2 separate regions of the Homo sapiens genome follow, and region 2 is linked to region 1. Evidence: fine-mapped expression QTL. A gene starts in region 1. The other region holds a variant in brackets. All regions are shown on one strand. Distances are from middle to middle.

Region 1 (5,369 bases):
CACTGGGGCAACATCAGTCAAGAGTCAGCAAGCCTGGCTTCTGTCTTTGTGCTTTCCAAGTTTACAATGATCAACCTACAAAAATACTTAGGCAGGCAAGGACCCATGTTCAAAGATGCACACCATCATTCACGAATGTGGAAAACTGGAAACCTCAATGTCAACAGAGGACTGAATGGAAAACGATGCAGTTGTTAAGAACTGTAAGTACTAATATGGAAGAAAGCTCAGGATATGTTAAAAATGGGTGCCCATTTTTGTTTATTTCCCTCTCTCTGTACACAGAATAGAAAAGGGTCTGGAGGATGCACCAGAATGGGGGTAAAGCAAGCCCTGTGGATTTGTACCTGACACCTTGCTTTAAGGTAAACTACATACACATATATACAGTAAGCATAGATCGCTTTAGAGATTTTAAAAAGCTTAGGCCAGGCGCGGTGGCTCTCTCCCACCCCGGCACGTTGGGAGGCTGAGGCGGAAGGATCGCTTGAACCCAGGAGTTCGAGACCAGCCTGGGCAACATAGTGAGACCCCAATCTCTACAAAAAATTTTAAAAATTAGCCAAGCATGGTGGCATGTGCTTTTAGTCCCAGCTACTTGGGAGGCTCAGGCAAGAGGATTGCTTGAGCCTGAGAGGTCGAGACTGCAGTGAGCTGTGATTGCATCACTGTGTTCCAGCTTGGGCGACAGAGTGAGATCCCGTCTCAAAAAACAAACAAACAAAAACTTGGACAAAAAGTAAAATAGCTATTGTTCCAGGATAATTTTATTCTACTGAACCAAGTGACAGGGAAAGAATTTTTCCTACTGTGGTTTTGCCTCCTCCAACCCTTTTCAAACATTTCTTGAATACCTACTAAGTGCTGGGCACTGCTGAAGGAGGCAGACAAAAAGCACCCACATCCATTGCACGAGGTGCACGTGTAGTACTAACTGCAGGCACAAACTTTCTGTACACAGGAATGCTCATGTTAGGAAATTACCTTGTGAGGAAAAGGAGTGTCAATTCTCGGCTCACATTCTAAGGCAAAAGAACACACTTTGGGCTGCATGCAGTGGCTCATGCCTGCAAGTAATCTCAGCACTGTGGGAGGCCAAGGCAGGAGGACTGCTTGAGCCCAGGAATTTGAGACCAGCCTGGGCAACAAAGCAAGATTCTGCCTCTACATAAAAAATAATAATAATGATAGAGTCGGGTGCAGTGGCTCATGCCTGTAATCCCAACACTTTGGGAGGCTGAGGTGGGCAGATCACGAGGTCAGAAGTTTGAGACCAGCCTGGCCAATATGGTGAAACCCCATCTCTACTAAGAATTAGCCGGGCATGGTGGCACGCACCTGTAATCCCAGCTACTCAGGAGGGTGAGGCAGAAGAATCACTTGAACCCGGAGGACTGAGGTTGCAGTGAGTCGAGATCATGCCACTGCACTCCAGCCTGGACAAGAACAAGACTCCGTCTCAAAATAAATAAATAAATAAATAATAAATAACACACTTTGGAAACAAAAATAAGTCAAGTTAATAAACTGTTATCCAACATGGGATAAAATATATGAATCACAGGCCCCTGAGACTTCAGCGGCACAGATCATCTGCATTTAATCCTACACAAAACACACACTAAGAGGAAAGGCTCAAAATGGGTTGTAGGCCGGCACGGTGGCTCACGCCTGTAATCCCAGCACTTTGGGAGGCCGAGGGGGCAGATCACGAGGTCAGGAAATCGAGACCATCCTGGCTAACACGGTGAAACCCCATCTCTACTAAAAATACAAAAAATTAGCCAGGCGTGGTGGCACGCACCTGTAGTCCCAGCTACTCCGGAGGCTGAGGCAGGAGAATCGCTTGAACCCGGGAAGCGGAGGTTGCAGTGAGCCAAAATCGCACCACTGCACTCCAACCTGGGCGAGAGTGAGACTCTGTCTCAAAAACAAAAACAAAAAAAAAAAAAAAAAAACGGGTTGTATACCAACGAGGTGATGGAGGCTGGGGTGGTCGGGTAACAAGAGGCTTTAGGAGTAGCTGGGATCTAATTAATCTTCAAAACACCCGACCCATGTCCTAAAATGCCATCCTATGCTAGAATACACTATAACAAAACTAAAAATGATGAACCTGCCTAGGTCGTGCTGCAAAGGCCTTTTCTTTAGAAAGTTAAAAGGGGCCTGAGGCTCAAAGTAGAAATTAAGAGGCACAACCTGGTAGTAACCACGGACAAAGCAATCAAGGAAGCTCAGGCCCTCAGGAGGCAGAAAGCCTGAGATGGCTCGGAGAAGATAAAGTCGCCTCCCCAAAAGCGGTGTCAAGGTGACAGCGGGGTTTCCCAGGACCTCAGAGACTCAGGTCCTCAGTGAGCCCAGCCATCACTCAAGCTGCGGAATAAGCATTTTCGTCCTTTACCCAATCCCTCCCCAAAGTGCTGTCAGAAGAAACCTGAACCGTCCTGCGGCAGAGACGGGAGCAAAGCGGAGAGCAGACTGCCCCAAACGTGTTCCCGGAGGGAGGGAGCAGGGTGGGTTTTTGGAAAGAGGCCTGCAGGGGCGGGACAGTGGGTGTGAGGGCAGGGGCAACGCTGCAATCGAGGGGTCTGGGGTCGCAGAGAAGCGGGTGGCAGGATGGAGGAATAGGAGAGAGAGAGAAAAGAAACGAGGGTCATCTAGGAGAGGAGTATGGGGAGGAAGGAAGAGGAGAAAGAGGATGGAGCCTGGCAGCGGGGTTTGGGGACCGGCAAGGCTTAACCACCCAGGAAGTCCCGGAAGGAGAAGAGGGCAACGGGGTGGGAGAGAGACCAACGCAGAAAGAGAAACAAAGTTGCCAAGGGCGAGGGGCCAGCGCGAGGAACGCACCGGTGGCAAGGCACTCAGTGCCTAACTTTTTAGGACGGGAGGCTCCAGGGAGGCGGGATTTTGGAGCCCAGGGACCGGGGGAGTCCAGGCGGCCGGGAAGCGACGCGCAAGCGAGGGGCGTAGGGGTCCCTGCCAGGCGGTGGCCCGGGGTCCCGGGATCCTGGGGCGGGGCAGAGGAGCTTTTCAGCCGCGGTGGAGGTCCCCGGACAGCCACCCCGACCCCAGCCCCGCGCAGCGCCTCACTTACCCGAGCAGGGGCGGCGAGGCCAACGCGGCGGCGGCGGCAGAGGCGGCTGCGAAGGGCGGTGCGGCCCCGGCCCTCCGGACCCCGCCCCCGCCCCGGAGCCTGCGGTCGGCGCCTCCCATTGGCTGCTGCTCTACGGTACCGCGTCCGCCTCGGCCAATCAGCGCAGAGCAGCGTCGTTTGGAAACTTTTTTCCCAGGCCGGGCGCGGCGCGGCCAAGCGGCGAAGGCTCCTGGCCGGAGGGGGTTTGAGAGGCGCCGGCTGCCGGGCGCTGGGCTGCGGCGGGCTGGCGGGCATTGGAGATGCTGCAGAACGCTGCCTGGACACCCGGGAAACGGGTTTGGGCTTGCGGGCCGCGCATTTCAGGAAAATACGCCGGCCTCTCCTTCACTTCGATTGCATTTTCCCATTCTTGCACTTTCTCCAAATCAGAAGGAAAGACAAAGATTCAGGCCCACTGAAGCTAGCAGTGCCCCGTGCCCTTCCTACTCCTTTACACCAAAAGTAGAATCTTCAGCATCATTATCTTCTCCAGAAGCAGGAGAACGTAGTGCACCAGAATTTGGTCATAAACTTGGCTTTGAGTCCTAGTCCTGCCCCTTACTAACTGTGTGGTCTTGGGAAAGTTGTTTAGCCTCTATGACTCCGTTTCCCCATCTATAAAACGCCATTATGGGTCTGGCGCGGTGGTCACGCCTGTAATCCCAGCACTTTGGGAGGCCAAGGCGGGTGGATCACGAGGTCAGGAGTTCAAGACCAGCCTGGCACATGGTGAAACCCCGTCTCTACTAAAGATACAAAAAATTAGCCGGATGTGGTGGCACGCACCTGTAATCCCAGCTACTCAGGAGGCTGAGGCAGGAGAATCACGGGAAACCGGGAGGTGGCGGTTGCAGTGAGCCGAGATCACACCACTGCACTCTAGCCTAGGCGACAGGGCAAGACTCCGTCTTAAAGAACAGACAAACAAACAAACGACATTATGCAGAGGACTAAATGACTTAACAGCATTTGTAAAAACGTTTAGAACAGAAATTTGAACTTAGTAAGTACAATATATGTATTTGTTAAATGATCTTGATTTTGTTTATTTATTTATTTTGAGATGAAATCTCCCTCTGTCTCCCAGGCTGGAATGCAGTGGCGTGATCTCCACTCACTGCAACCTCTGCCTTCTGAGTTCAAGCAATTCTCCTGCTTCAGCCTCCCGAGTAGCTGGGATCACAGGCCCGCATCACCACACCCGGCTAATTTTTATATTTTTAGTAGAGACGGGGTTTCACCATGTTGGCCAGGCTGCTCTCGAATCCCTGTCCTCAGGTGATCCACCCACCTCGGCCTCCCAAAGTCCTGGGATTACAGGCGTGAGCCACCACACACTGCCTGAAGATCGTGATTTTTAAATGGCTGTGTGTGCCAGGCACAATTCTCACAGCAACCCTAATTGTTCACTAACAAATTAAAATTAAAAAATAATTTTTTTCTTTTCGAGACAGAGTTTCCCTCTTGTTGCCCAGGCTGGCGTGCAATGGTGCGATCTCGGCTCACTGCAACCTCTGCCTCCCAGATTCAAGCGATTTTCTTGTCTTAGTCTCCCTAGTAGCTGGGATTACAGGCGCCCACCATTACGCCCAGCTAATTTTTTGTATTTTTAGTAGAGACACGGTTTCACTGTGTTGGCCAGGCTGGTCTCGAACTCCTGACCTCAAGCAATACACCTCAGTCTCCCAAAGTGCTGGGATTACAGGCGTGAGCCATGTAACTCAGAAGGCAGAGGTTGCGGTGAGTGGAGATCACGCCACTGCATTCCAGCCTGGGAGACAGAGGGAGACTTCATCTCAAAATAAATAAATAAATAAAATCAAGCCACCATGCTTGGCTGGAATTTCTTTTTTTCTTTATTTTCTTCTAAAACATCCTGTCATAACATGTTCATTAACAAATACCGAACATTCTGGTTAGTGGGTACAAAAATAGAGTTAGAATGAATAAGATCTAGTATTTGGGAGCACAGCAGGGTGACTACAGTCCACAACAATGTATTGTACATTTTAAAATAACTAAAGGAGTATAATTGGAGTGCTTGTAACACAAAGAAAGGATAAATGCTTGAGGTCATGGACACCCATTTACCCTGATGTGATTATGATGCATTGCATGCCTGTTATCAAAATATCTCATGTACCCCATAAATATAAACACCTACAGTGTACCCATAAAAACTAAAAATATATATATTATTATCCAGCTTTTTTTTTTTTTTGTGAGACAGAGTCTC
Region 2 (5,369 bases), 47 kb before region 1:
GGTGACAGAGCAAGACTCTATCTCAAAAACAACACGGTAGCCTCATCACCGACAACTTAGAGCCCTTCCCAGAGAGCCCCTTTTGTCCCTCTTTGCAATGCACACGGTGGCAGGTAAGGATGAAAAGACATTTCCCAGGGACAAACCCCAGAGCACAGGTGATGGCCTCGGTCATTGGCTTGGGCCGCAAAGCTAACTAACTATGGTGACTGCTCTTATTTCTCAAACTAACTTAAAACAAAAACCTAGTGTAAAAAGACGACAAAAGGTAACGACTTCCGCACCAACACCAAGACCTTCAGCTTCCGTGGTTTTCCTAAAGCAACATCTTGACTACCCCCTGGGCTGACGGCAGCGGCGATGAAGACATGTGTGAAGGCGGCTTCCCAAATTCCAGGCGCTTCCCCAACCTTCAGACAGAGCAAACCAAATTAAGCTGACATAACAGCTGTGACAAACTGGCTAGCACCGGGGCCCAGAGAGTTATAAGGGTGAACATCAAGAGTCAGGAGCAGGGTCTCACAGGGTCTCAATTTTCTCTCCTGTGAAATGAAGAAGAGGACACTGGCTACCTGGCTCTCAGATTCCAAGGTCACACAAAACGCCCAGTCTCAGACCCACTAGAAAAATCCATCTCTTACCTATTGTTTGTTTGTTTTACAGCCTACGCAACATAGTGAGACCCTGTCTCTATGAAAAATGCAAACAAAAATTAGCTGGGTGTGGTGGCCTGCATGTGTAGTCCCAGCTACTTGGTAGGCTGAGGTGGAAGGATCGCTGGAGCCCAGGAGGCGGAGGTTGCAGTGAGCCGAGATCACACCACCGCAGTCTAGCCTGGGTGACAGAGTGAGACCCTGTCTCCAAAAAAAAAAAAAGGCCAGGCATGATTGCTAACGCTTGTAACCCCCAGCACTTGGGAGGTCAAGGTGGGAAGATCGCCTGGAAAATTAATCTGAAAACTCACCTCTAGAAATCTCAATGAGAAGCAGACTACAGTCTCAGAGGTGTATTCTCAAACTCAAAGCCAGGAGGTTTGAGACCAGTCTGGGCAACATAGCAAGACTGTTTCTATAAAATATAAAAAAAATTAGCCAGGGGTGGTGGTGTGCACCTGTAGCCCCAGCTACTTGGGAGGCTGAGGCAGGAAGATGGCTTGAGCCCAGGAGGACGAGGCTGCAGTGAGCTATGGTCGCACCACTGCACTCCAGCCTGGGTGACACAGCAAAACCCTGTCTCGTAGAAAGAAAACAAACAAAAATTAATTTTTTTTTTTTTCTTGAGAAAGAGTCTCACTCTGTTGCCCAGAGTGGAGTTCAGTGGTGCAATCTTGGCTCACTGCAACCTCCACTTCCTGGGTTCAAGTGATTCTTGTGCCTCAGCCACCCAAGCAGCTGGGACTACAGGCATCCGCGACCATGCCCGGCTAATTTTCGTATTTTTAGTATAGATAGGGTTTCACCATGTTGCCCAGTTTGGTCTTGTGAACTCCTGGCCTCAAGTGATCCACCCACTTCTGCCTCCCAAAGTGCTGGGATTACAGGTGTGAGCCACTTCACTGCACCTGGCCTAAAAATCCACGTGTAAAGGTCTCAAAGTTATGTGCATGCCATGGAAAATATTCTTAATTTCCTGTCACGTGTCTGCTACAAACCCATCAAATTCCTACGGCTTGGGGCCCAGAGAGATGGTAGTCACACACCTTGCAGAATTCCTGAATCTGAAAGCTGCCCCTTTTTTTTCTGAGACAAGGTCTCGCTTCATCACCCAGGCTGGAGTGCAGTGGCTGGGAACACGGCTCACTGCGGCCTCAACCTCCAGAGCTCAATTGATCCGCTGCCCTCAGCCTCCCAAAGTGCTGGGATTACAAGTGTGAGCCACTGAGCCTGGCCCTGATTTTCTTTAGGCAAGAAAATTAATGACACTGTTAGAGATCAGATCTGCACTGTCCCATCGGGTGGCTGGTTTCAGGAACATAGTCTGGGCTAGAAGTTAGTGCCAGTTTCTCAAAGGTTCTACAGATTTAAAAAGAAAAAAAAGGGCTGGTTGCAGTGGCTCACGCCTGTAATCCCAGCACTTTGAGAGGCCGAGGTGGGTGGATCACAATGTCACGAGATCAAGACCATCCTAACACAGTGAAACCCCGTCTCGACTAAAAATACAAAAAATTAGCTGGGCATGGTGGCACACGCCTGTAATCCCAGCTACTCAGGAGGCTGAGGCAGGAGAATTGCTTGGACTTGGGAGGCAGAGGTTGCAGTGAGCTGAGATCATGCCACTACACTCCAGCCTAGGCGACAGAGCAAGACGTCTCAAAAAAAAAACAAAACAAAACAAAAAAAAAAACTTCAGGGGAAGCAGAGCCATGACTGATGCTCAATTCCCCAAATAAGGGCTTTATTTTTATTTAACTAATTAATTAACTTTTTGATATGGAGTCTTGCTCTGTCACCCAGGCTGCTGTGCAGAGGCACAATTTTGGCTCACTGCAATCTCTGCCTCCAGGGTTCAAGTGATTCTCCTTCCTCAGCCTCCTGAGTAGCTGGGACTATAGGCACATGCTACCATGCCTGGCTCATTTTTCTATTTTTTTTGGTGGAGATGGGGTTTTACCAATGTTGCCCAGACTGGTTTTGAACTCCTGACCTCAAGTGATCCACCTGCCTTGGCCTCCCAGACTGCTGGGATTACAGGCGAGCGTCACCACACCTGGCCCAAATAAGGGCTTTTATACAGGACATTCTCACAGTGTAACCGTGAGTAGCAGCTGTAGAATCAAATGATAAAAATGACCTTCTTGGCCAGGCATGGTAGCCCACACCTGTCGTCGCAGCACTTTGGGAGGATGAAGGGTGAGGATCACTTGAAGCTCAGAGTTTGAGACCAAACTC[G/A]GCAACATGGCAAAACCTGTCTCTAGAAAAAATACAAAAAATTAGCCGAGCACGGTGACACGCACCTGTACTCCCAGCTACTCGGGGGACTGAGGTGGGAGGATCGTTTGAGCTGGGAGGCAGAGGGTGAGCCATGATCCTGCCATCGTATTCTAGCCTAGGTGACAGAGTGAGACCCTGTCTCACAAAACAAGACCCTCTCTCTAGCCCTTTGTTCAAGCCACAAGACACCACCTAATGCTGCCTGCAGGGAGCAGAGGAGAGGATAAGGTTTGCTGAAATAATCCTATAATTTAAAAAGACACATGGCTGTGGGCTGGGGGTGAGTGTCTCTTGCCTGGGGCAGGCGGGTTCTCCCCGCCAGCGAGAGGTTTATTAGAAGGTACTGACCCCTTATCACCCAAAGGCACGCTGGTGCTGCTTGGCCGTCTCTCCCCGCCATCTCTGTTCTTGCTGCTCCGCCCAGAGGCTGGGCCACCTGTTCGGTTTGGGGACTGATCGTACACGAGGTTCCGGCAGGAAGCGAGTTTGGACTCCAGTGCCTGGACAGAAATACACTTTTATCTCTCAAGTTATAGGCAAGGACTATTCTGTCTTACCAGAGCCTGTACAGAAGAACGAACCCCAGACAGTGGTTCTCAAACTGTTGTGCACTGGAATTCCAAGGTGGGACCCCAAGAGGAATCCAACGTATATGCCAGTCTCAGAACCAAGCACCTTAAGTATTTGGGAGCTGGCTGGGCACAATGGCTCACACCTATAATCCCAGCACTCTGGGAGGCCAAGGCAGGAGGATGGCTTGACATCAGGAGTTTGAGACCAGCCTGGGCCACAAAGTAAGATCCCATCTCAGTTTTTTTTTTTGTTTTGTTTTTTACTTTTTTAGACGCTGTGTCACCCAGGCTGGAGTGCACTGGTGAGATCACAGCTCACTGCAGCCTCAACCTCCCAGGCTCAACCAATCCCTCCCACCTCAGCCTCCTGAGCAGCTGGAATTATAGGCATCCGCAATCATGCCCAGTTAATAAAAAAAATTTTTAATGCAAAAAATTTTTTTTAATTACGAAAAATTTTTTAAAATGTTTGGGAGCTGCCTGGAAAAAGATCACGGCTCACTGCAGCCTCAACCAATCCTTCCACCTCAGCCTCCTGAATAGCTAGGACTATGCACAATCATGCTTGGCTTAAAAAAAAAAAAAAAATTCTTTTTTAATTACAAAAAATTTTTTAAAATGGGAGCTTTCTGGAAAAATCACTAACCTACCAATTATCCAACTCCGCTTGTAGGAAGTAGGAAATCCACTTCTGGAATCCTTCACCCTTTGGTTTACCTTGTTAAACCTCTGCAGAATGGCAAGAAGTTTGGTAAGGACTTGGTCTGGCTACAACAGACCCTGAGGAAACCAAAAGGACACTGACAGCACCCCAGGCTTCTCTATACTCCAACTAGGCTAAATACTGAAATGCAGACCTGCTTCTAGAATAGCAAACCAGACAGCCAAAAACCAGAAGTAAAAACAAAAGAAATGAGTTGCAAGCTTCTATTAAGTTGTAGCTACAAATACACTGTGTACAGTGACAACTTGGTAGGAGTTAAATTATGTGGCCTTCTAGGCATCATTTTTAAAAATAAACTACAAAGAATACCTATGTTTTTACTTAAGCACAAAAGGATCCCTCCCTGTAATTAACATAAAAGCTGAAAGGCCAAATTCTTTGCCCTAGGCTTTCAAGATTTTTTTTTTTTTTTTTTTTGAGACCAAGTCTCACTTTGTCACCCAGCGGTGCGATCTCAGCTCACTGCAACCTCCGCCTCCCGGATTCAAACAATTTTCCTGCATAAGCCTCTCAAGTAGCTGGGATCGCAGGTGCCCACCACCATTCCTGGCTAATTTTTGTATTTTTAGTAGAGATGGGGTTTCACCATGTTGGCCAGGCTGGTCTTGAATTCCTGACTTCAGGTGATCCACCCATCTCGGTCTCCCAAAGTGTCAAAATTCACTTAAACCCCAAGAAACAAACCAAAAAAAAAAAAAAAAAAAAAAAAGGTGGCAGTTTTTTTCTCTTCTGAGACAACGTCGTGCTGTCACCCAGGATGGAGTGCAGTGTTGGAATCTCAGCTCACTCAGCCTCAACCTCCCAGGCTGAAGCAATCCTCCCACCTCTCAGCCTCCTGAGTAGCTGGGACCACCAGTGTACACCATCAGGCCTGGCTAATTTTTGCATTCTTGTAGAGGCCAAGTCGGGGCAGGGGGTTTCACCATGTTGCCCGGGCTGGTGTCAGACTCCTGAGCTCAAGTAATCTCCCACCTTGGCCTCCCAAAGCACTGGGATTACAGGTATGAGCACCCGGCCAAAAGAGAAGGCAGTTTCCAAGTGCTCCTTAATTTTTCGAGTTAAGGAAAAAACACACATATCACCCTAATTTCCCAAATTTCCTAGAGGAAAAACGGTAAAAGGAAAGAGACATACATAGGGTTC

Evidence for each region. PIP is the estimated chance that this variant, and not a neighbour inherited with it, causes the effect.
Region 2: its variant is fine-mapped to the expression of NDE1 in spinal cord (GTEx, PIP 0.98).

What each region holds. Positions count from the first base shown.
Region 1 is chr16:15,648,020-15,653,388 of GRCh38, reverse strand. It overlaps NDE1 (nudE neurodevelopment protein 1), which reads right to left and starts at 3,144. Exons shown (of 9, transcript NM_017668.3): 1 at 3,095-3,144. RefSeq lists a silencer at 1-77 and enhancers at 2,442-2,941, 2,942-3,443.
Region 2 is chr16:15,694,770-15,700,138 of GRCh38, reverse strand. NDE1 (nudE neurodevelopment protein 1) reads right to left here. Exons shown (of 9, transcript NM_017668.3): 8 at 3,279-3,430. Among named protein-coding and RNA genes, the nearest start is that of NDE1, 47 kb to the right of the region's middle. The variant G/A (reference allele first, on the strand shown) is at 2,889.